7 linked regions of the Homo sapiens genome follow. The protein of the gene in region 5 purifies or fractionates together with the protein of the main gene of each other region. This does not show direct contact. Each region holds a gene or a part of one and is shown on either strand. Other genes may lie near its edges.

Region 1 (3,500 bases), on a different chromosome or scaffold from region 5:
ACTGGAAGGCCCACTCACTGTGGATGAAGCTTGTAGAGTGTCCCGTCCACTCCCACAGTCACATTCAGACGGTCCAGTCCTCTGTTCTCGCGGATCTTATCCACAACCGCAGCCATGCCTGCGCCACACAGCTGTGCGGCCCTCCTGGACACCACCCCGCACACTGTCTTGACGAGGATACTGTCATCGCAGGTGCTATTCAGACCTAGCTGCTGGAGGATAGCCCGGACCTGGAGCAGTGCTAATCGGTCACTGTGGGGGACAAGAGCCAGAGGGCTGGATGAAGCAGGACCCACAAGAGCAGCCTGGAGACCACGTCCAAAGGACGCCCCCCGCCCCCAATCACTGTACTCATCCACAGACAGAGTCAAGGGCAAGTGTTACATGTTAAACTGTGGAGAATTTGGCAAATCTAGCAAAATAAAAATTGGAAAATCTAAACCATTCACTATCTCAACATCTAGGAAAATGCTATTAACATTTTAATATATTTCCTTCCAGTTTATTTTTCCTAGCTGGTATGCTTCTCATGATATGCAAAATGGGATTATCCTTGATATGTGATTTTCTTTCTCTTTCCTGTTTCATGCATTGAGCAATTTCCCACAGCCTTATCTGAGAACAGGATTGGAAACAGCTGCTGCAGTATTCCCTCTAGGGATGCACCATGATTTCTTTAGCCAGCTTGGAGAAATTCAAGTTAATTGCAATTTTCTGCTATTATAAAGAAACATTTTGATAAGGTTTGTTTATAAATCTTTGTGTGCAATTCTGATGTTTTTCCTTAGGATAAATTTCTGGGTCAACGAGCTTTTGCTACACATTGCCAGATGCCTTACAGAAAATTGTATCCATTTACTCTTCAGCAGAGTATTTGGCCACACTTATCCTCACTGGAAAAGAGCATTTTTTTACAACTTTTGACAGTTTTATAAGAAGGCATCACAAGACTGTAGTTCAATTTATATTATTCTCTATTAGTGAGGATGATCTCTTTTTTTTCCATTTGTTTTTTGGCCATATAAACTACTTCTTACGTCTCAAGACTTTTCTCCTGATATATTTGTCTTATTTATATTAAATTGAAAGAGACGATAACTGGGATGGTACAATGAAGACCAGCCAGGCTTCTTGGAGGACTTACCATGTAACATATATTTTACATACATTACCTTACTTACTCCTCAAACAACCAATGAATGTATGATTATTCCCATTTTAAAGATAAGGCAACTGAGGCTGGGAGAAATTGAGTATTGCAAAGCACACAGCCGGTGGAGAAGAGCAGGTGTAGACCAGACCTGCCAAAGCCCACCATGCCCTGCTAGGCGTCTTGTCATACACAGTACAAATGTCTTCCTCAGTTTACCGTTGCCTTTTAAGTTTGATTACTTTTTTTTTTTACTTACAGACACTATGTAGCTATATTTGGCCATTTTTCTTTATGATTTCTTTCTTTGCTATTATGCTTGAAAAGACTTTCCATACCACTTCATACCCATTAGGATGGCTATTCTCAACTCAGAAAATAACAAGTGTTGGCGAGGATGTGGAGAAACTAGAACTTTCACGGGCTGCTGGTGGGAATGTAAAATGTTACAGCCACTGTGGAAAACAACATGGTGGTTCCACAAACAACTGAACAGGGAATTACCATATGATCCCGCAAGTCCACTTGGGGTGCGTACACACACACACACAAACTGAAAGGAGATACTGGTCACCCGTGTTCACAGCAGCATTTGTCACAATATCCAAAAGGTGGAAGCAAGCCAAGTGTCCATGGATGGATGAATGAATAAACAAAATGCAGTGTGTGCATGCAATGGAATATCACTCAGCCTTAAAAATAAGGAAATTATGGCCGGGCGTGGTGGCTCATGCCTGTAATCCCAGCACTCTGGGAGGCCAAGGTGGGCAGATTACCTGAGGTCGGGAGTTTGAGACCACCCTGATCAACATGGGGAAACCCCATCTCTACTAAAAATACAAAATTAGCCGGGCGTGCATGGTGACGCACGCCTGTAATCCCAGCTACTCAGGAGGCTGAGGCAGGAGAATCGCTTGAACCCAGGAGGCAGAGGTTATGGCGAGCCAAGTTTGCACCATTGCACCCCAGCCTGGCCAACAAGAGTGAAACTCCGTCTCAAAAAATAAAAATAAAAAAATAAGGAAATTCTAACACATGCCACAATACGGATGAACCTTAAGACATTATGCTAAGTGAATTAAGCCAGTCACAAAGGACAAATGCTGTATGATTCTATTTATATGAAGTATCCAGAGTTGTCAAATCCATAGAGACAGAGAGTAGAATGGTGGTTGCTGGGGTGGGGGGAGGGAGGAATGTGGAGTTAGTGTTTGCTGCGTACAGAGTTTCAGCTGAGAAGATGAAAAGAGTTCCGGAAATGGATGGTGGTGATAGCTGTGCGACTATGTGAATGTACTTAATGTCACCGAACTGTATACTTAAAAACCATTTTGCCTGGGTAAGAGCAGTGTATAGGCTTGTTAGGTTTTTTTTTGTTTAAGGTTTAATATTTTTTTTCTTTTCTTTCTCTTTTTTTTTTTTTTTTGAGACAGAGTCTGTCTCTGTCGCCCAGGATGGAGTGCAGTGGTGCAACCTCAGCTCATTGCAACCTCCGCCACCGGGCTCAAGCCATCCTCCCACCTCAGCCTCCCAAATAGCTGGGACCACAGGAATGTGCCACCACGCCCGGCTAGTTTTTGCACTTTTTGTAGAAATGGGGTCTTGCCATGTTAACCAGGCTGGTCTCGAACACCTGAACTCAAGTGATTCACCTGCTTTGGCCTCCTAAAGTGTTGAGATTACAGGCATGAGCCACCGTGCCCAGCCTACACAGAGCCTACGTTAGGTTATTATGACCATTCTAAGAAGAACACAGTATTTGCACAATTGCTTTTGTTTTTTCTGACCCTTTTTTCCTCCTTCTCACACAGCGTGCCTTAGAAGACAGCAAAGGCCAGGAAGAAATGTACCCTGGACAGGAGAAAAGTAGAAAGAAGGTGGAACAACTTGCTGAGGGGCATCAGCTCCTGGGTGGCCTGGCACTGAACCCCAGGCTGCCTTTCAGATAAATCCAGGTGGGCCCTATGCACCCCCAATACAAGTATGTGTAGTGCATCTTTACCATCTGAAATGGAATCCATATGGCCCTCTTACACACATAATTTCAAATAAATCAATATAATGCCCCAACATAAAGGATGGATAAAAGGAAAGTAAGTAATTTACTTATTTATTGAGATGCAGTCTCGCTCTGTTGCCAGGCCAGGCTGGAGTGCAGTGGCGCGATCTCAGCTCACTGCAACCTCCACCTCCTGGGTTCAAGTGAGTCTCCTGCCTCAGCCTCCCAAGTAGCTGGGATTACAGGCATATGCCACCACACCCAGCTAATTTTTTGTATTTTTAGTAGAGATCGGGTTTCACCATGTTAGCCAGGATGGTCTCAAATCTCCTGACCTCATGATCCGCCTGC
Region 2 (3,500 bases), about 68 Mb from region 5:
AGGAGTAATAGTTAATTGGGTGAGTCCAGGTTTCCTGATTACACGGAGAATCATTCTGCTCCCACATTATACCAGCTAATAGCTATACCCATCAACAACAGAGATGAAATTCCATTCTAATGACACATCCTTCCCCAATAGTATGGAATTCCGTCAAAATAGAAAACCTGCTGTTTCTCAAAGAGTTTAAATTTATAGACACAAGAGCTTACACACTATTCTTTGCCTAAGCCTAAATTCAAGAGGATACCACCAAATCAGAGAACAGAAAAGGTCACTCAATTTTCCTAACTCCTCAACCACCACCTGCCACGTGGCTATAACCATCTTACTTCCATGCAATCGTGTCAATGAAATTGGAGAGAAGTAGATGCCAACCTAGTGATCCAGGCCTCTGGAATCCTAAGTCTCTTCCTATGTCTCCAGCAATGCTGGCTAGTTTGTTAAAAGCTAGAGAAACAGGATTTTGCAAGAATGGCTGATGTCTTGTGCAAATATAGTTCCTAGATTTTTTTTTAAATCAGGTGGTCATGTGGGTTAGAATACAGAAAAAAGAAAGCAAAGAGGCAAAGTTACCTTGATGTTGTCCCCCAACCGAGATCAGATTGATCATGGGAGGTGAAGGGCATCTCTGAGCCACTGCCCTCCTACGGAATAAAAGGGAGTTTTAGCTCCGACTGTCAGATGGAAATGTATCATCCACAATCAGCATCACAGATTAAGCTAGTCATCCTCTGTGACTCCCCAAACCCGCAGAGTTTCAGGATTTTCCTGATATGGGCAAATGCAAATATTTCTTTCAACTTTCATAGAAAATAAATTAAGCTCCAGCCAGGCATGGTGGCTCACACCTGTAATCTCAGCACTTTGGGAGGCTGAGGTGGGTGGACTACCTGAGGTCAGGAGTTCGAGACCAGCCTAGACAACATGGTAAAACCCCATCTCTACTAAAAATACAAAAAATTAGCTAGGTGTGGTGGTGAGCACCTATAGTCCCAGCTACTCGGGAGGCTGAGGCAGGAGAATCACTTGAACCTGGGACGTGGAGGTTGCAGTGAGCTGAGATCGCGCCACTGCACTCCAGCCTGGGCAACAAGAGAGAAATTCTGTCTCAAAAAAAAAAAAAAAAGAAAAGAAATTAAGTTCCATAAAGCTTCTTACACAGGAACATTTTAGGAAATTTCCCTTCCAAGATAGGTGACAATCTTGAATTGGAGGAGTGGATTTATCTGAATAAAAGAAACAAAAATCAATTCCATATAAGTGGTACAATATAACAAAAAGGAACGTACAGAAATTGGCCTCCCTGGGAGAATCCCATAGCATTGTAGCCTTGCTGCAATTTAGGATCCTTAGCAAGTGCCTGACACACTGTTGTTACTTGGGAATTGACATTCAAGAAGAAGCTGTTCTCCACGTCCTAAAAAAGAAGCCAGAGAGAAGTGAGAGGATGGGACTGAAAACAACCACTGACATCTTCTCTAAGAGGTAAACTCATTTAGGTTGGTATCCTCACATGAGCCACTCAAGGGTGAAAGTATCACTGTATGATCTGCTGCTGAAAACACAAGGCAAAGCATTTTAACAGTATATGCTATGAAATCAGTCAGCAACCCTTCAAAGGAACAGCTGTGAAGCGCCTTACCTCCATCAGGGTCTTCCCAATCTCTAAAGATAAGACGTAAATTCCAGGTATTTTCTTCTCCACCATTTTTTTAATAGCACCCATGCTTAAGGGATTGCAACAGCTGTCTCCTAGCCAACAAAACACAATGATGGAAACTCATGAGTCCAAATATTGTTTATTGTTTAAAAACTCTGAGGCCTCAAACAGCATTATCAAGGATGTGAAAACAATGTATAGAATGGAAGAAAATATTTGCAAAACAGTTATCTGATAAGGGCTTAATATCCAGAATATACAAGGAATCTATAACTCACTTACAACTCAACAAAAAGATAACCTAATTTAAAAATGGGAAAAGAAATTAAACAGATATTTTTCCAAAGAAGATATACAAATGGCTAACCACTGGCATGTGAAATGCAAACCAAAACCACGATGAGATACCATTTCACACAGACTAGGATGTCTTTAATAATAATTTTTTAATAGAAAATAACAAGTATTGTCAACGATGTAGAAAAATGGGACCCCTTGGACATTGCTGGTGGGAATGTAATAAGCAGCCACTGTGAAAAACAGTTTGGTGGTTTCTCAAAAAGTTAAACATACGATTACTAAATGACTCAGCAATTCAACTCCTAGTTATACACCCCAAAGAAATAAAAACACACGTCCATGCAGAAACTTGCATATAGATGTTAACAGCAGCAGTGTTTGTAATAGTCAAAAGGGAGAAACAATCCAGCAGTCCATCAATGAATGAATGAATAAAATGTGGTATATTCACACAATGGAATATTACTGAGTTATAAAAAAGGAACAAAGTGCTGACACATGTTACAACTTGAATGAACCTCAGAAACATTATACTAAGTGAAAGAAGCCAGACTCAAAAAGCCACATAATGCATGATTCCTTTCATAGGATAAATAAAGAACAGGCAAATCCACTGAGATACAGAAAACTAAGCTGGAGATTATCAAGAAGTAGTAGGAGGGGGCAATAGGGAGTGATTGCTTAATGGCTATGTGTGTTTTTCTGGGGTGTTGAAAAAGAAGTGTTAGTTGCACAACATTGCAAATACACTAAATGCCACTGAATCGTACCATTTTAAATGGTTAACTTTACATGAATTTTTACCTCAATTTTAAAAAACAGAAGAAAGAACATTTTTTGCTTAGCTCCTGTTTATCAAGTAATAACAAGCTTCAAAAGTCCATACAGGAGCTGGGTGTCATGGCTCACGTCTGTAATCCCAGCAGTTTGGGAGGCCGAGGTGGGTGGATCACAAGGTCAGGAGCTCGAGACCAGCCTGGGCAACATGGTGAAACCCCATCTCTACTAAATATACAAAAATTAGCCGGGTGTGGTGGCACATGTCTGTAGTCCCGCTACTTGGGGGGCTGAGGCAGGAGAATCGCTTGAAACTGAAAGGTGGAGGTTTCAGTGAGCCAAGATCATGCCACTGCACTCCAGCCTGGGCAACAGAACAAGGCTCCATCTCAAAAAAAAAAAAAAAAAAAAATCCATATAGGCCAAGCATGGGCTCATACCTATCATCCCAGCGCTTTGGTAAGACGAGGCAGGAGGATTGCTTGAGGCCAAGAGTTCGAGACCAGTTTGGGCAACATAACGAGACCCTGTCTCAAAAAAACCAAAAAGCCCATATAGGATAATTAAGACACCAAATTTACAAATGAAAAATAAGCAGAGGTACACATTCCCTTCCCCTATCACAGGGGATATTTGGGGTGAACAGATGCAAAGTTTTCTCTTCAGGGCCAGGACTAGGGTGAGGCAAATTAAGCATCTAGGACAGCGGTCTTCAACCTTTTTGGCACCAGGGACCAGGTTTGTGGAAGACAATTTTTCA
Region 3 (3,500 bases), on a different chromosome or scaffold from region 5:
GACCCCACACATGGAAAGCCAAATACAAATAAGCTTTGTCCTTGAGGAGCTCATAGTCCACTAGGAGAAATGGGCCTTGGGACACAATTATAGGAGGGGTCTCTGGAAGAGCCCAGGTGAACTAGCCTTAACTCTGCTTCTGGCAACCTGGGCAGACTCTCTACAGAGGAGGAGATGAGCTGGTCAGTCCCCAGGACTGGTTTGGCAGATAGAGGGAGTAAAAGGCACTGCAAAGCAAGATGCATTCACTCATCCAGCCAACACCTGCTCTGCCCATCTCCATAGGATACTGAGAATGAATGAATGAATGATCAATGAATATGATTATGTGCTTTGCCCATGAGCACTGTGGTTAAGGGCAGTGGAGGGTCTGCTGCCAGCTCCTACTGGACCAGAACTGCACTCCCATCCTAAACACATACCCAAGGTCCCAGCAGGAGGCAGGGGTGCTTATTTTGAGACTACCAATCTTCCCGCTCCACAGCCTTGGTGCAGCTTGCAGCCAGGCCTGAAAAGGAAGTCTCCCAATGGAGACAATTCCTAGCCAGGGAGCCTGGCAAGAGGGATCCCTGAGTGGCAGCAAGCCTTATCCCTTTTTTCTTTTTTCTCTTTTGTTTTTTCCAAGTGAGGTCACAGGAAGCCCTATCCTTTCTTTTCTTTTTTTCTTTTCTTTTTTTTTGAGACAGAGTCTTGCTCTTGTTGCTCAGGCTGGAGTGCAGTGGTGCGATCTCGGCTCACTGCAACCTCGGCCTCCCGGGTTCAAGCAATTTTCCTGCCTCAGCCTCCTGAGTAGCTGAGATTACAGGCGCGTACCACCACATCCAGGTAATTTTCGTATTTTTACAATACAAATACTCGGCTGCCCTATCCCTTTTTAAGACTTTTATGTGGTTAGACAAATGTCTTAGGCTGGGTGTGATGGCTCACGCCTGCAATCCCAGCACTTTGGGAGGCCAAGGCAGGCAGATCACCTGAGGTCAGGAGTTCGAGACCAGCCTGCCCAGCATGGCGAAACCCTGTCTCTACTAAAAATACAAAAATCAGCCAGGCGTGGTGGTGTGCACCTGTAATCCCAGCTACTCAGGAGCATGAGGCAGGAGAATTGCTTGAACCTGAGAGGCAGAGGTTGCAGTGAGCCAAGATCGCACCATCACACTCCCGCCTGGGCAACAGAGCGAGAATCCATCTCAAAAAAAAAAAAAAAAAAAAGGACAAATGTCTTGCAAATAAAAAATCAATCAATTTTTTCCAAAATATGGAGCAGCCATTGGGACGGATAAAATCAGCTGGGCACGATGGCTAAATGCCTGTAATCCCAGTACTTTGGGAGGCTGAGGTCAGAGGATCACTTGAGCCCAGGAGTTCAAGATCAGCCTGGGCAACAAAATGAGACTCCATCTCTACAAAAAAAATAATAAATATGACTGGCTTATGCCTGTAATCCCAGCACTTTGGGAGGCTGAGGCAGGAGGATTGCTTGAGGCCATGAGACAAGCCTGGGGAAACTTGTGAGACCGTGTCTCTACAAAAAATAAAATTAGCTGGGCATGACGGTATGTGCCTGTAGTCCCACTACTTGGGAGGCTGAGGTGGTAGGATCACTTGAGCCTGGGAGGTTGAGGCTGCAGTGAGCCAAGATCTTGCCACTGTACTCCAGCTTGGGCAACAGAGTGAGACTCTATCTCAAAAAAATAAAATAAAATAAAATAAAATACAATAATTAGCCGGGTGTGGTGACACATGCCTGTAGTCTCAGCCACTTGAGAGACTTAGGAGGATCGCATGAAGCCCAGGAAATCAAGGCTACAATGAACTATGATCAGGCCACTGCACTCCAGCCTGGGTGACAGAGACCATGTCTCAAAAAAAAAAAAAATTTCTTTTTAAAAATAATCTTAAAGTGGTGATATGTTTGTTTTGTTTTGTTCATTTGTTTGTATTTGAGATGGAGTCTTGCTCTGTCGCCAGGCTGGAGTAAAGTGGTATGATCTCCACTCACTGCAACCTCCACCTCCCGGGTTCAAGTGATTCTCCTGCCTCAGCCTCCCAAGTAGCTGGGACTACAGACGTGTGCCACCACGCCCAGCTAATTTTTGTATTTTTAGTAGAGACGGGGTTTTACTATGTTGGCCAGGATGGTCTCGATCTCTCGACCTCATGATCCACCTGCCTCGGCCTCTCAAAGTGCTAGGATTACAAGCATGAGCCACTGCGCTGGGCCAAAGTGGTGATATGTTTGTATAAGCATAAAAATGAGAAATGGGCCGGGCATGGTGGCTCACGCCTATAATTCCAGCACTCTGGGAGGCCGAGGCAGGCGGATCACTTGAGCTCAGGAGTCTGAAGCCCTGTCTCTGCAATAAATAAAAAAATTGCTGGGTACGGTGGCTCACGCCTGTAATCCCAACACTTTAGGAGGCCAAGGCGGGTGGATTACCTGAGGTCGGGAGTTTGAGACCAGCCTGACCAACATGGAGAAACCCCATCTCTACTAAAAATACAAAATTAGCCAGGCGTGGTGGTGCATGCCTGTAATCCCAGCTACTCAGGAGGCTGGGGCAGGAGAATTGCTTGAACCCAGGAGGTGGAGGTTGTAGTAAGCCGAGATCAGGCCATTGCACTCCAGCCTGGGCAACAAGAGTGAAACTCTGTCTCAAAAAAAAAAAAAATTAGCCAGGTGTGGTCGAGTGTCAAGTGCGCCTGTAGTCCCAGCTACTCAGGAGGCTGAGGTGGGAAGATCGCTTGAACCCAGGAGGCGTAGGTTGCAGCAAGCTGAGATCGGGCCACTGCACTCCAGCCTGGGCAACAGAGCAGACCCTGTCTCAAAAAACAAAACAAAACAAAACAAAACAAAAAAAGAGGCTGGGCATGGTGGCTCATGCCTGTAATCCTAGCATTTTGGGAGGCTGAGGCGGGCAGATTGCTGGAGCTCAGGAGTTCACGACTAGCCTGGGCAACATGGCAAAACCCCATTTCCACTTAAAAAAAGATACAAAATATTAGCCAGGAGTGGTGATGTGTGCCTGTAGTCCCAGCTACTCGAGAGACTGAGGCAGAACTGCTTGAATCCAGGAGGCGGAGGCTGCAGTGAGCCAAGATCACGCCACTGCACGCCAGCCTGGATGACAGAGTGAGACTCCATCTTCACAAAAAAAAAAAAAAAAAAAAAAAAAAAAAAAGAAAGAAAAAGAAAAGAAAATAAATTACTTGTCCCAAACTGTTAATACTGCTTACCTGGGAAAGAGGAATAGGAGATGGCTAAATTTTTCTTTATTCATTGTAATTTTTTATAAAGATTTTAAAGTGTGTTAAGCATTTCTGAATTCATGAACTCTCTCGATCATTGTACATGCATCTGCTTCATTAGCAAAAAGACAATTATCAGCCTGGTGCGGTGGCTCATGCCTGTAATCCCAGCACTTTGGGAGGCCGAGGCGGGCGGATTGCCTGAGGTCAGGAGTTTGAGGCTAGCCTGGCCAACATGGTGAAACTCAGTCTCT
Region 4 (3,500 bases), on a different chromosome or scaffold from region 5:
AAAAAAAAAAAAAAAAAAAGAACTCAAACCAAAAATTCCATAAACAAAGAGGTTCTCAAGTCTTGCTGAATCACACTTTTTATACTGCACTGAATTAGAATATCCAGGGGTAAGGTCCAGGAATGTGTATTTTAAGGAATCTGCCCAGGTAATTCTGATGACCTTGCTGCCATTAAGGTATTTAGTTAACAGGTACAAGCGAGAATGCGTTCAGAGTGAAACCCCATTATATACAGCACATCTCAATTGTATCTAGAAGAGGCAAATAATGCTTTATAGAAATAGATCTGCTGGGAGCGTGGCTCATGCCTATAATCCCAGGACTTTGGGAGGCTGAGGTGGGTGGATCCCCTGAGCTCAGGAGTTCGAGATCAGCCTGGGCAACATGGTGAGACCCCGTTTTCTACCAAAAATACAAAAAATTAGCTGGCGTGGTGGCACACACCTGTGGTCCCAGCTACTTGGGAGGCTGAGGTGGGAGGATTGCTTGATTCTGGGAGGTGGAGGTTGCAATGAATCGAGATCATGCCACTGCACTCCAACCTGGGTAACAGAGTGAGACCCCCCATCTCAAAAAAAAAAAAAAAAGAGAAAAGAAAAGAAATAGATCTATCTACAATAAAAACCTGATAAAGAATAGCTTTATTGTAACTTTCTAACCCAATTCTATGAATGGGCTTCAGAAGACCCTGTCAGCAATTCTGCAAGTGTCATCCAGGCATAGTTACCTATATGAGCATCATGGGTGAGATGAAGGCGCATGGGAGGCAGGGTGGATGTATTTGAGGCCCTGCCTTCAACCTACTGAAAGAAAATCTCTGGAAGTGGAGCCCAAGAGTATATATATACATTTTTAACAACTCCCTGGAAAATTCCAGAACATACTAATATTTGAGAGGTTCAGTTCTCGGTTCTAGTTTTGGGTTTGCTATGAGCTAGTTCTATAACCTTGGTCAAATAACAACATTTCTCAGGTACTTCATCTATATCATGTACAGACTGGGTCATCTCCAAAACACCTCCTAGCTCTAACATGATATGATTCTAACTAAACACAACATTTCACCTTCTTTGCAGAGCTGTAAATATCTTCTCGGTTGCTGCAGTCTACCACAAAGGTATGAACCTTGGCACCCAGTCCCTTGCATTTGGCAGCTGTTTCCTCCAGTCCATGCTAGAAAAAGCAAAAAAGAGGGCAAGGTAATAATTGATATGAACATATTATATCGACAGCTGAAAATAATTAAAAATAATTTTTAAAAAGTAGTGAGATTCTTTCCATTTGAATTGGGCAAGATTGTTAACAACACATTTTTGGCAGGTATATAGGCACATTTTGCTTTTAGTATTTTGACTAGCTTCTTTTATTTGGAGCTGAATTTAAAGCAAGCTTCTTAAAAGAAGATAAAAATCTTAAAATACTAGTTTTTATATTTATGAACTTTGAATACTTTGTGAATGTTGGTATCTCTGTGTATTCCATATCAGGCTTTAAAAAATGTAACATTAAACTTTTTTCCATGTCATTAAAAACTATTCATGGATGTCAGTTTACTGTCTGCAAAAGAAATAATGAGTTAACCACAGTTCATTAAACCATTTGTTCTTTCAGCATTTTAATGTGAAGGTCATATTCACTGAGCTTAGAAAAACCTTGACACAAATATGAATGAGGTAGAGTCCCGACCCCAAGAAGTTCTCTGTGTAGTAGAAAGAAACATAAGTATCATAGTTAAGTAGGACCACGTAATACTGTTATTGTTTTGATAATAAAAGATTGAATATTGGCAGTTTCAACCTAATACATTGTGATGAGTATCACAGCAGAGTTCTATACAGGGAGTTACGGGAACACAGAGGGGCACACAATACAATTCCAGCAGTGGTTTGCCATGCCCTTTCACTTGCTTTCCCCAGGGTGAAAGGACACATCAGGCAGGGTGTGGGCAATGACAGATAGGAGATTGGTCTTGTGGAAACCACTAGTAGGATTAGTGTTGTTGGATGGATCATAAAGGTCAAGGCCAGAAGAAGTTCAGATTAAGGTCCCACATGTCATATTAAGATTTATCAAAAAATGAATGAGGAGCCACTGATTAAATTATAGTGTCAGGTTTATGTGTCGTATTGATTATTTTGGCTGATGTATGGAGGGTGGATTTTAGGGGTCAACACTGGAGGAAGAAAAAAACTGAGAGGCAGTTACAGTGATTCAGGTAATAGATGACACAAACTTGAAATGTGGCATTAGTAGAAAAAATGTAGAGGAAAGAATATCCTTTAAAATATATGTTTAGAAGGTAAAATCAGTAAGACTTGGTGAGTAGATGAGGAAGGATGGGAAGGAGCCACATCTGACATCTTTGCTTTCTAGTTTTGGTAGCTGGCAAGATCACGCTGCCACATGTCAGACAGAGATGACAGCAGATTTGAGGAAAAGGGGTTATGAGTCCAATTTGGGGCGCCAATTTTGAGTCAACTTAAGTTTAGGATCATACCATTGGGGTTTTTTGTTGTTGTTGTTATCTTTGCTTGTTTGCTTTTGGCCAATTTTTGCCTTTTTTTTTTTTTAACTTTTAAGAGAATGTCTCAAAAGATATTTTGGATGAAGATCTAGTATTGTGCATTCTGCAGGCCAAGTATTAGGTTGTTGGAAAAGTAATTGCTGTTTTTGCCATTAGTTTAATGACAAAAACTGCAATTACTTTTGCATCAACCTAATAATTGTCAACTAATGCACTAATGGGCAGACCCTAGGAGGACTCATACATTTATCCACAGAGAGGATGGTGAATCAGTGTACACATTTGTAAATGGCAACTAATGTTGGAAAGGCCAAATCTGGACAGCTGTGGGGAGAATTAGTAGCTTGCATAGTGAAACTGTTATGATAATAAAGGGAAACAAGTTCTTTTTCTCCTGTGGGAAGTCAGGGACCCCGAATGGAGGGACCGGCTGGAGCCGCGGCAAAGAACATAAATTGTGAAGATTTCATTTTAATATGGACATTTATCAGTGCCCAAATAATACTTTTATAATTTCTTATGCCTGTAATCTCTTAATCCTGTTATCTTCATAAGCTGAGGATGTACGTCACCTCAGGACCACTGTGATAATTGTGTTAACTGTACAAATTGATTGTAAAACATGTGTGTTTGAACAATATGAAATCAGTGCACCTTGAAAAAGAACAGAATAACAGTGATTTTTAGGGAACAAGGGAAGACAACCATAAGGTCTGACTGCCTGTGGGGTCGGGCAAAAAAGAGCCATATTTTTCTTCTTGCAGACAGCCTATAAACGGATGTGCAAGTAGGAGAGATATTGCTAAATTCTTTTCCTAGCAAGGAATATTAACATTAATACCTTGGGAAAGGAATGCATTCCTACGGGGAGGTCTATAAATGGCTGCTCTGGGAATGTCCGTCCTATGTGGTTGAGGTAAGGACTGAGATACGCCCTGGTCTCCTGCAGTACTATCAGGCTTATTAGGGTGGGGA
Region 5 (3,500 bases):
ACAAAAAAAATTAGCCAGGCGCAGTGGTGGGTGCCTGTAGTCCCAGCTACTCCGGTGGCTGAGGCAGGAGAATGGCGTGAACCCCGGAGGCCGAGTTTGCAGAGAGCCGAGATCGCACCACTGCACTCTAGCCTGGGCAACAGAGCAAGACTCCGTCTCAAAAAAACAAAACAAAAACAAAAACAAAAACAAAAAATAAATAAAACTCCTTCAGAGAGTTCCTAAGGGTTTCAGGAGCAGATTGCACAATAATAGAACTTGGTTTACATCAGTATGCAGAATATTAATGAAACAATCAAAATTTGAAAGTTTGGTGGAAAACAAACTGGTATGAAATGCTAAGCAGATGAAGCAAAAAGATTCTGTAACCTTTAATGAATATTGTTAAGTGCCTTATGCCAGAGATAAACATAATCTGACCAAACAAGGACACAGATCCTTAGCAACCATGAGGTGCTGAGATTATTTGGACAATATAGTACCTATAAAAAGTAAAAGCCTACAACTTTTACACTTCCCTATGGCAGAATACTTAAATGCCAATAAAAGCTAGACAGCTTATTCATCAAGGTGGTACTTCTTCCAAGTTTTCAGAATGGACATTTATGCAGTCTTGGGTTGTTTTTTTTTTTTTTTTTTTAATTGATCATTCTTGGGTGTTTCTCGCAGAGGGGGATTTGGCAGGGTCACAGGACAATAGTGGAGGGAAGGTCAGCAGATAAACAAGTGAACAAAGGTCTCTGGTTTTCCTAGGCAGAGGACCCTGCGGCCTTCCGCAGTGTTTGTGTCCCTGGGTACTTGAGATTAGGGAGTGGTGATGACTCTTAACGAGCCTGCTGCCTTCAAGCATCTGTTTAGCAAAGCACATCTTGCACCGCCCTTAATCCATTTAACCCTGAGTGGACACAGCACATGTTTCAGAGAGCACAGGGTTGGGGGTAAGGTCATAGATCAACAGGATCCCAAGGCAGAAGAATTTTTCTTAGTACAGAACAAAATGAAAAGTCTCCCATGTCTACCTCTTTCTACACAGACACAGCAACCATCCGATTTCTCAATCTTTTCCCCACCTTTCCCCTTTTTCTATTCCACAAAACCGCCATTGTCATCATGGCCCGTTCTCAATGAGCTGTTGGGTACACCTCCCAGATGGGGTGGTGGCCGGGCAGAGGGGCTCCTCACTTCCCTGTAGGGGCGGCCGGGCAGAGGCACCCCTCACCTCCCGGATGGGGTGGCTGGCCGGGCGGGGGGCTGACCCCTCCACCTCCCTCCCGGACAGGGTGGCTGCCGGGCGGAGACGCTCCTCACTTCCCAGACGGGGCGGCTGCCGGGCGGAGGGTCTCCTCACTTCTCAGACGGGGCGGCCGAGCAGAGGCGCTCCTCACATCCCAGACGGGGCGGCGGGGCAGAGGCGCTCCCCACATCTCAGACGATGGGCGGCCGGGCAGAGACGCTCCTCACTTCCTAGATGGGATGGCGGCCGGGAAGAGGCGCTCCTCACTTTCCAGACTGGGCAGCCAGGCAGAGGGGCTCCTCACATCCCAGACGATGGGCGGCCGGGCAGAGACGCTCACTTCCTAGACAGGATGGCGGCCGGGCAGAGACACTCCTCACTTTCCAGACTGGGCAGCCAGGCAGAGGGGCTCCTCATATCCCAGACGATGGGCGGCCAGGCAGAGACGCTCCTCACTTCCCAGACGGGGTGGCGGCTGGGCAGAGGCTGCAATCTTGGCACTTTGGGAGGCCAAGGCAGGCGGCTGGGAGGTGGAGGTTGTAGCGAGCCGAGATCATGCCACTGCACCCCAGCCTGGGCACCATTGAGCACTGAGTGAACGAGACTCCGTCTGCAATCCCAGCACCTCGGGAGGCCGAGGCTGGTGGATCACTCGCGGTCAGGAGCTGGAGACCAGCCCGGCCAACATAGCGAAACCCCGTCTCCACCAAAAAAATACGAAAAACAGTCAGGCGTGGCGGTGCGCGCCTGCAATCGCAGGCACTCGGCAGGCTGAGGCAGGAGAATCAGGCAGGGAGGTTGCAGTGAGCCGAGATGGCAGCAGTACAGTCCAGCTTTGGCTCGGCATCAGAGGGAGACCGTGGAAAGAGAGGGAGAGGGAGACCGTGGGGAGGGGGAGAGAGAGGGAGAGGGAGAGGGAGAGCTGTTTTTTTTTGTTTAATACTCTATAAATCTATGCCTAATAGAATAAATAGAACTCTACAGGTTAAGGAGCTACTGGGACTCAGGTATCCTGGCCCATAAGTGTTACAGAGTGTTCTTGGGTGATAACTGTACCTATGGTTTATAGCTCCAAATAAGTATAAATACATAAAGTAGACTTACTGTAGAATGTTTCCAGAAACGGATAATTTCCTCAATGTCTGTAACAGGATTAAATAAGAAGTAGTCTCTCCATTCATTCCAGTCCACTGTCATTGTCCCATCAACATCAATGCTGAAATTTTAAAAAAATGATCAAAGTACAAAACTAAATTGATAAATAAAACTAACATTATTGGCCACTTTACAGAATGACAGTTTCTTTTCTAACATAATATTCTCATTAAATTAAAAAACCCCATCCACAAATATAGGTTGTTGGAAATGGCAGCAAGCATTTTATGGTCCTGTCAGATAGTTTTAATTATCTAGATAAAAATGGGCCCAAAAATTACAGCCAGCTCACTAAAGAATACTTTCAGCACTCTGTCAAACTCTGCCAATGAGCTACAAAACACAAAAACTTGAAGATAAAATATTAAACGATGGTAATGAATAGATTCATTATCCATTTTTTTCATGCACTTAGTGGATCATGAAGATAATTCTTAATGTTCTATTGCAACATTTGAATGTAGTTTTGAAATATACTCAAAACATGCTATCAACTTCCTCGAAGTTAGGAAAATTAACAGCTATTATAAAAAATCAAACTGTCAGTGACTGTGCCTTTGAGTCTTTTTTTTTTATTATTATACTTTAAGTTTTAGGGTACATGTGCACAATGTGCAGGTTAGTTACATATGTATACATGTGCCTTGCTGGTGCGCTGCACCCACTAACTCGTCATCTAGCATTAGGTATATCTCCCAATGCCATCCCTCCCCCTCCCCCCACCCCACAACAGTCCCCAGAGTGTGATGTTCCCCTTCCTGTGTCCATGTGTTCTCACTGTTCAATTCCCACCTATGAGTGAGAATATGCGGTGTTTGGTTTTTTGTTCTTGTGATAGTTTACTGAGAATGATGATTTCCAATTTCATCCATGTCCCTACAAAAGACATGAACTCATCTTTTATGGCTGCATAGTATTCCATGGTGTAAATGTGCCACATTTTCTTAATCCAGTCTATCATTGTTGGACATTTGGCTTGGTTCCAAGTCTTTGCTATTGTGAATAGTGCCACAATAAACATACATGTGCATGTGTCTTTATAGCAGCATGATTTATAGTCCTTTGGGTATATACCCAGTAATGGGATGGCTGGGTCAAATGATATTTCTAG
Region 6 (3,736 bases), on a different chromosome or scaffold from region 5:
AGCGACTATTTCAATGATACAGGAACAATTCCTGATACCTACCCTTCTGACAGAAAAGATTAGACTTTTTCTTCATATTCAATTTGTTCACCTTCTCTCTTTCTTTTTTGAGACAGAGTCTCACTCCATCACGCAGGCTGGATGGAGTGCAATGGCGCAATCTCAGCCCACTGAAACCTCTGGCTCCCAGGTTTAAGCGATTCTCATGCCTCAGCCTCCCAAGTGGCTGGAATTATAGGGGCATGCACCACGCCCAGCTCATTTTTGTATTTTTAGTAGAGACGGGGTTTTGCCATGTTGGCCAGGCTGGTCTTGAACTCCTGACTTCAGGTGAGCCACCCACCTCAGACTCCCAAAGTGCTGAGATTACCAGCATGAGCCACCATGCCTGGCCCTGTTTTCTTTAAACACTAGTTCTGCACATAGCATTAAAGAGAAAGCTCAGAAAAAATAAAGTCTATCATAGTGACTATATCACTAAGAGAAGATGAAGCAGAATATGAAAAAATAAAATTTACTGTTTATTTCTTTGTTACACAAAGGTGGTCCAAGACATCTTAGTCCATCTCCTATGTCCTTTTGGCCATAATTACACACACAATAATGGCAAGCTAGATTAGGAGTCTAGCTCAGGGTCAAGTTTTTCCACTTTAATGACTATCTCTGGAGCTAAAGCGGCAGCACCAGCTTGTTGGTTCTCTGCCTCTGACTCCGACAACACTTCTTCCTTTATTTTTACAGGCTTATTACTGGCCTCCTCCTCTTCATCTGAAGACTCATCGAGCTCCCATTCATCATCTATGTCCATTTCAAATACTCTCACATGACGAAGATTTGAGCTTAACTAAAAAAGAAAAGGCCATAAAAGCATTTTTAAATTAATGGCTTATCATATATAAAGAATTAGAAATCAGAAGTCTGAATCAAAGAATGGTTTTATAGGAAAGTTATATTCCCATCAATTTACAACAAAATCAATAAATTCAGCCTTCATTTTGTATAAAAAGATCTCCACATAACAACAGTGGCAATTTCGTGAGATTAAAATCTAGTATTATTATTAACTACTTAGTAAGCTTTATCAGAACAAGAACTAAATAGCTAAGGCCACCACATGATCATAATCAATACAAGCTATAAATCACAGTAAAAATATTTGCACAAAAGGACCTTATATATCATGTATTTGATGAAGGTTCCAAAGAAGCAACGTTACTTCTTGTAATTTCTTAGTTGCTGAACGATCTCTAAACACTTACCACACAGGACACTTTTCGAAAACCATTCCCAGCAACATACTGTGCTTTCATACTTTCCAGTAATCTCCAGTGCTTCTCAAAATGCATGGTACGGGTGGGAATAGCACTACACTGTTCATCTAGCCTAAAGAGGGAAAAAAACCAACTCAGGAATGAAAAGGGGATCTTATCCTCCCTAGTTTTACTACAGGTGGTATTAGGGTCAATTATGGTTTTGACTTCTACTCATACTTCTATTTCCAATATAATTTTAGCAACTGTTGTGTTAGAAAAAAAGCTGTGATATAATATTCTATAAAAATTCCATATTCTATATTCTGGCTAGGCACAGTGGCTCATGCCTGGAATCTCAGCACTTTGCGAGGCCAAGGTGGGAGGATTGCTTGAGTCCAGGAGTTCAAGGCCAGCCTGGGCAACATAGTAAGACTCTATCTCTGTAAAAAAATAAAATTAGTCAGGCAAGGTGGCACATGCCTGTAGTCCCAGCTATGAGAGGCTGAGGCAGGAGGGTCACTTGAGCCCATGAGTTGGAGGCTGCAGTGAGCTATGATTGCGTCACTGCACTCCAACCTGGGTGACAAAGAGAGGCCCTGTTTCAAAAAAAAAAAAGAAAAGAAATACTGTAATTCCAAACAGGCAGAATATCATCTTAGCAAGGTTTCTGACTCCCTTTCAAAGAAAGCAAATGGATACATTTTTAAATTAGAGATCTGCTTACTTAAGTCTCAGTCAATTAAAGCCATCTCTTGGAATTGACAGTATACTTCCTACATGGGTACTGAGGTCTTAATTCTGGAAGGAAAATACTGAAGGCAAATCAAAAATAACTAATTCCAACCAACTAGGGTTAATGCTATCCTTAAAAATGTAACTAAAAGAAGTCCCATTATCCACTCCAAATAATTCCCCACCTTGATTCCAGCAAATACTTCCTGATTTACTAGTAAAGCAAAGGGACAAAAAAAGCTATTAAGGCCAGCATATTTTGAATGAAAAATTGGAGCATTTCTGCTCAGCTACCTCTGTGGTTATCTCTAGTAACGAAATAACCATTATCTAGCGTACCTAAAAGGTTGGAATTTATAATGTGCATTAAAAAAACATTTAACTGTAATATCAGAAAGACAATGTTACTAGTTACCTTGTAGAATAAGTCCCAGTGAACTGATATTCTGCAGAATCTTCACTGTTATATACTAAAGACAAAGGCAGCTGGACCAAGAGTCTATCTCTTCCTTCACGTCCTACAGTGTCTTTAAGAACTACTGTTACAGTTTCATCATCATAAAACTGTGCATCTAAACAACTGTAGATGCTAGAATTAAAATAAGTTTTGTTATATCAAAGATGATCGTGACTACTGAGAAAATATTGTATGCATGTTATACTGGCAGCAAGCAGAAAAAAATTTAAAAGTTAAGTGACATTCTGTACAATAACATTTAAAATATATCATTGGTTTGTATTAAAATCAGTTACTTTTTGTACTGATTATTCACATATATAACCAAATCTTAAAAATGGGTAATCATGACCCCCAAAAATCTGTGAAGTTGTTTCAGTTCTAGAAAGCCCCTGGCCATCAATGGTTAGGCCTTAAGCCTGTGGAAATTCTATGAATGACACCTTATATACACATTCAGCAGAGTTGACTAGACTGAGAAATAAAAATAAGATACTACACATGAAAAATAGGCACAGCAACTCCAAGGACTTTATCATAAAAAAACTTATTTTATGTGAGGAAAAAAGTGAGAAAAAGATCAGCCTATGATTAGTCACTTCTTTCCCTTGCGAAGCCTCAGGGATGGCTTAGGTACTGTTACCATTTTGAATCCTAAGAAAATCTCCCATCACTAAGAATGGCATCACCTCATAATTTTTTTTGGTCGTAACAAGAACTTCAGCCCTGCAGGCCATCTGCCCATGGGAACCACATTACTTTCTTTGTCAACAGGGAGCTCAGGAGTATTAATTATAGGAAACCGTACGACATAAACTGCAGGGCAGTAAGGTTCTATTCAATCACAAGTCAAATCATTCTCTATGTATAAATACACAAAGAATCCTGCCCTTGATGTGGGAAGTGGCAAAGCCCTTTTACCTATATTACCACCGTAACTGAGTCTGATCCTATTCCTAAACATATACACATATCACATGTATCTACATTTCATCCAAACAAGATTCAAGACTTACCTTCTTCTGACTTTTTCTGTTGTGGCATATGTAAAGCTCCCAAATTTAATAGCAATTAGTCCATTACTCACAGATCTTCAAGAAAGAAGGGGGAAAAAAAGAGACTCTGTGGAACAACCTGGATAGTCAATAATCTAAAGGCTTAAAAGAACATGATTGTCAGGGTCAGTACATGTACTTCTTTAGAACACTGAGAACTTGTTTAAATGCCTAGATAGATAAACCAATTTGGTTTAAAATCACACAGTCACCAAAGACATTTGGAATAGAAATAACCC
Region 7 (3,500 bases), on a different chromosome or scaffold from region 5:
TAGAAGACAGAATTAATTATAGCACCAAAAAAAAAAACGCTCAAAACCCAGGAACAAATCTAATGAAAGATATGAAAGATCTCTACACTGACAAGTTATAAAACTTACTGAGAATTGAAAGACCCAATATTCTAAAGATGGCAATTCTCCATAACTTCACCTATAAATACAATGCAATCCCAATTAAAATCAAAGTTTTACAAAAATTGAAAAGCTTATTCTAAGAGTCATGTGGAACACAAAGGGCCAAGGCAACACTGAAGAATCGTATTATAGAACTGACTACCACCAGATAGCAAAATCTACATGATAAAGCTGTAGTAATTAAGACAGTCTGGTATTAAGTACAAGAATAGGCAAACTGACCAAAACTAAGAGTCCAGAAACAGATCCACACCTGCACACTTGATTTATGACAAAGACAACACTGCAGCATAGTCCTTTCAAATATAGTGCTGGGTCAATTAATATCCATTAACAGGGGAAAATGTACCTTGATCCTACATCGAACAATAATCCAGATGGCTTAAAAATTTAAATATGAAAGATTTTTTTAAAAAATTTTACAGAAGAAAGCATGAGACCATCTTTGTGTCCTTAGAGTAGACGAAGATCTTAAAGAGTCAACAAAAAGCACCTATTAGAAAGAAGAAACCTGATAAATTGGACTCTATTAACACTGAAAACTACAGTTAAACAGAGTGGGGAAAAAATAATCACCATATCTATATCTGACAAAAGACTCAATTCCAAAGTATACAGAGAAGTCTCACAAAACCAATAGGAAAAAAGACAATACAATGGAAAAATGGTTAACAGACTTAAACAGATACTTCACAGAAAAAGATATGCTGAAATGAAGTATAAACAAATGGAAAGGTCTTCAACTTCATTGGTTACAGGGAAATACAAATTCAAGCCACAATGCAATCAATATTAGTGTTTATTTACCACAATGGCTAAAACATAAAAGACATAAAAATAGCTAGTGTTGGTGAGAATGTAGGAGTATACATTGGTCTAAATAGTTTGGTAATATCTACTAAAGCTAAATAAATATATACAAAATCTATGACCCAGCAAAATGTCTATCAAAAAGGCACCATATTCTTGGCAAAACTAATTGTAACAGTGAAAATTGAAAACTACCAATTATCAATGCACAGTTCAGATAGATAAACTGGTGTATTCACACAGAGGAAAACTATAGGGCAACTACATGCAACAATGTGGTTAAGTGCAATGATGTGCTGGTAAACCAGCACTCCCTATAAAAAGCTCTAATTTTAATGTTTGTCAGTTTCCATGGTGTAAAGCTACCAATTCTTTTTTTTTTTTTTTTGAGACGAGTCTCGCTCTGTCCCCAGGCTGGAGTGCAGTGGCGCCATCTCAGCTCACTGCAACCTTCGCCTCCTGGGTTCAAGCAATTCTCCTGCCTCAGCCTCCCAAGTAGCTGGGACTACAGGTGCACACCACCATGCCCAGTTAATTTTTTGTATTTTTAGTAGAGACAGGGTTTCACCATATTGGCCAGGATGGTCTCAATCACCTGACCTCATGATCCGCCTGCCTCAGCCTCCCAAAGTGCTGGGATTACCGGCATGAGCCACCGTACCCGGCCAACTACCAACACTTTAAAAACCAGCTTGCCAAAGTTCCCGAAAATTTAACAACCAATTCTCAGGAGCCAGTACAAACCAGTTCCAGCATGCTACTGGATGAATCTCACCATGTTGAAAGAACTTACATAAAAGAATATTTCAGTGTATGATTTCATGTAATTAAAGTACAAAAACAGACAACTAATCTGTGCCTTTAGCCTCAGTTCCTTCATTTATAAGAACTGGGATGACAATAGAAAAAGGAAGATGGTAAGAACATCTCTATTTTTACATTAAAAAGTTGTTCCTTCATACTGTCACCAACTAGTTATAGACCACTTACAACATAAAGGTACTACATACTGGATATTAACAGGAAACAGGACACACTCTTTACTCTCATGGAATTTACAGTCTAGAGAGAGAGTTAAGACAAAGATAATAGTGTCATGGTTGCTATTCATCCCCTCAAATATTTGAGTACTATGTGCACTATGTATGTCCTCTGTCAGGTGCTAGAAATAGCTTATTTTCCTAAGGAGAAGTAGCAAGAATGGAAACAAACAGATTTGTTGAAGGTTAACGCAATACTCTTTGTGACATATGGTTGCATTAATTATGCTGGCAGTACAGATGGAGGTAGATAGTTAATAAAGACATTTAAGAGCTAAAAGACATTAATTGGACAAGGCAGATAAGGGATAGATGTGAAGGATAATGTCCCAGTTTCCTGGATAGTACTAACACCACTCAGTCATGAAGGGAAAGGAGGAATTGGTTTTGTGGAAAATGGTTGAGTTCTGTTTGAGGAGCCTATAGAAGGGCCATACATATTATATATTATATCCAAAATATAGTAACACCAACATTTCCCAAACAACTAGACAAAAAAACCCATACAAGAATGTAAGCACCAAGAGTTAATGAATTTTTGTTGTTTAGTGCTATATAACAATGTATAGTACATATCAGACACTCAAAAAACATGAAACAGAGGAATCGCCTGAGGTAGGAGAAAAATCTTAGGAATATGCCATCATGGAAGCCAAGAGAATAGACTATTTCAAGAAAAACTGGTTAAAGTTATGTAACGTTGGTCAAGAACAAAAACTGTCCATTATATTTAAGCAACAAACAGGTTGTTTTTGAAAAGTTTGTTTTTGAACTTTTGAAAAGTTCCAATAAATGGTAGAACATATGGATAGTCTCACACTGACTGCAATGGGTTAAACGAAGTAAAAAGTGAAGGGCTCATTCATGAAGTCTGCCTCTGGCTTCAAATATGAGGCAGTTGGGAGTAGCTGGAAAAACAAATGAGGGAGGATTTTTTTTTCTTTTTAATGTTCTCAAGTTAGAGGAGACCTGAGCATGTTTAAATGGTTTTGGCAGATCAGGAAGAAACAGAAGGAACATCTAAGACCACGTGGAGTATGACACACTGTGGATGAAAGGGGATACAGGCAGCCCTCCATATGTACATGTTCTGCAACCAACTGCGGATAGAAAATATTTAGGAAAAAAAAAACTGCATCTATACTAAACATGTACAGACTTGTTTCTTGTCATTATTCCCTAAACAATACAGTATAACAACTATTTACATAGTGTTTACATAGTCTTAGGTATTATAAGTAATCTAGAGATGATTTACAGTATACAGGCAGATATGCACGTAAACTTTACTAGGCCGTTTTATATCAGAGACTTAAGCTTTTGTGGATTTTGGTATCCTCTGGAGGGTCCTGGAACCAATCCACACAGACACAAAAGGACCACTGTACAAAATGTCAGGGATTTTGATTAAATGCAAAATGTCTTGGTGGATTCCAAATTCTTTTCTTAAAGTCTCTCTCAATTTTTACCTTTTTTTTGAGACAGAGTCTCGCTCTGTTGCCCAGG

What was found.
Region 1: the proteins of SLC25A24 (region 5) and HK1 purify together in Homo sapiens (co-immunoprecipitation; one large-scale study listed by IntAct). This does not show direct contact.
Region 2: the proteins of SLC25A24 (region 5) and PPT1 purify together in Homo sapiens (co-immunoprecipitation; one large-scale study listed by IntAct). This does not show direct contact.
Region 3: the proteins of SLC25A24 (region 5) and NIPSNAP1 fractionate together in Homo sapiens (co-fractionation; one large-scale study listed by BioGRID). This does not show direct contact.
Region 4: the proteins of SLC25A24 (region 5) and HSD17B11 purify together in Homo sapiens (affinity purification with mass spectrometry; one large-scale study listed by BioGRID and IntAct). This does not show direct contact.
Region 6: the proteins of SLC25A24 (region 5) and ANAPC4 purify together in Homo sapiens (co-immunoprecipitation; one study listed by IntAct). This does not show direct contact.
Region 7: the proteins of SLC25A24 (region 5) and OCIAD1 fractionate together in Homo sapiens (co-fractionation; one large-scale study listed by BioGRID). This does not show direct contact.

The regions. Positions count from the first base shown.
Region 1 is NC_000010.11:69,395,347-69,398,846, reverse strand, and holds part of HK1 (hexokinase-1), read right to left. Parts: intron 253-3,500; coding exon 19-252; intron 1-18. UniProt on the Homo sapiens protein: Catalyzes the phosphorylation of various hexoses, such as D-glucose, D-glucosamine, D-fructose, D-mannose and 2-deoxy-D-glucose, to hexose 6-phosphate (D-glucose 6-phosphate, D-glucosamine 6-phosphate, D-fructose 6-phosphate, D-mannose 6-phosphate and 2-deoxy-D-glucose 6-phosphate, respectively).
Region 2 is NC_000001.11:40,090,753-40,094,252, forward strand, and holds part of PPT1 (palmitoyl-protein thioesterase 1 isoform 1 precursor), read right to left. Parts: intron 1,756-3,500; coding exon 1,646-1,755; intron 1,421-1,645; coding exon 1,293-1,420; intron 648-1,292; coding exon 577-647; intron 1-576. UniProt on the Homo sapiens protein: Has thioesterase activity against fatty acid thioesters with 14 -18 carbons, including palmitoyl-CoA, S-palmitoyl-N-acetylcysteamine, and palmitoylated proteins. In contrast to PPT2, PPT1 can hydrolyze palmitoylated proteins and palmitoylcysteine.
Region 3 is NC_000022.11:29,571,114-29,574,613, forward strand, and holds part of NIPSNAP1 (protein NipSnap homolog 1), read right to left. Parts: intron 1-3,500.
Region 4 is NC_000004.12:87,381,189-87,384,688, forward strand, and holds part of HSD17B11 (estradiol 17-beta-dehydrogenase 11 precursor), read right to left. Parts: intron 1,175-3,500; coding exon 1,067-1,174; intron 1-1,066. UniProt on the Homo sapiens protein: Can convert androstan-3-alpha,17-beta-diol (3-alpha-diol) to androsterone in vitro, suggesting that it may participate in androgen metabolism during steroidogenesis.
Region 5 is NC_000001.11:108,158,844-108,162,343, forward strand, and holds part of SLC25A24 (mitochondrial adenyl nucleotide antiporter SLC25A24), read right to left. Parts: intron 2,451-3,500; coding exon 2,339-2,450; intron 1-2,338. UniProt on the Homo sapiens protein: Electroneutral antiporter that mediates the transport of adenyl nucleotides through the inner mitochondrial membrane. Originally identified as an ATP-magnesium/inorganic phosphate antiporter, it also acts as a broad specificity adenyl nucleotide antiporter.
Region 6 is NC_000004.12:25,415,263-25,418,998, reverse strand, and holds the end of ANAPC4 (anaphase-promoting complex subunit 4), read right to left. Parts: intron 3,600-3,736; coding exon of another isoform or gene 3,593-3,599; exon of another isoform or gene 3,534-3,592; coding exon 3,459-3,533; intron 2,575-3,458; coding exon 2,401-2,574; intron 1,384-2,400; coding exon 1,260-1,383; intron 845-1,259; coding exon 617-844; 3' UTR 501-616; downstream 1-500. UniProt on the Homo sapiens protein: Component of the anaphase promoting complex/cyclosome (APC/C), a cell cycle-regulated E3 ubiquitin ligase that controls progression through mitosis and the G1 phase of the cell cycle.
Region 7 is NC_000004.12:48,844,588-48,848,087, reverse strand, and holds part of OCIAD1 (OCIA domain-containing protein 1), read right to left. Parts: intron 1-3,500. UniProt on the Homo sapiens protein: Maintains stem cell potency. Increases STAT3 phosphorylation and controls ERK phosphorylation. May act as a scaffold, increasing STAT3 recruitment onto endosomes. Involved in integrin-mediated cancer cell adhesion and colony formation in ovarian cancer.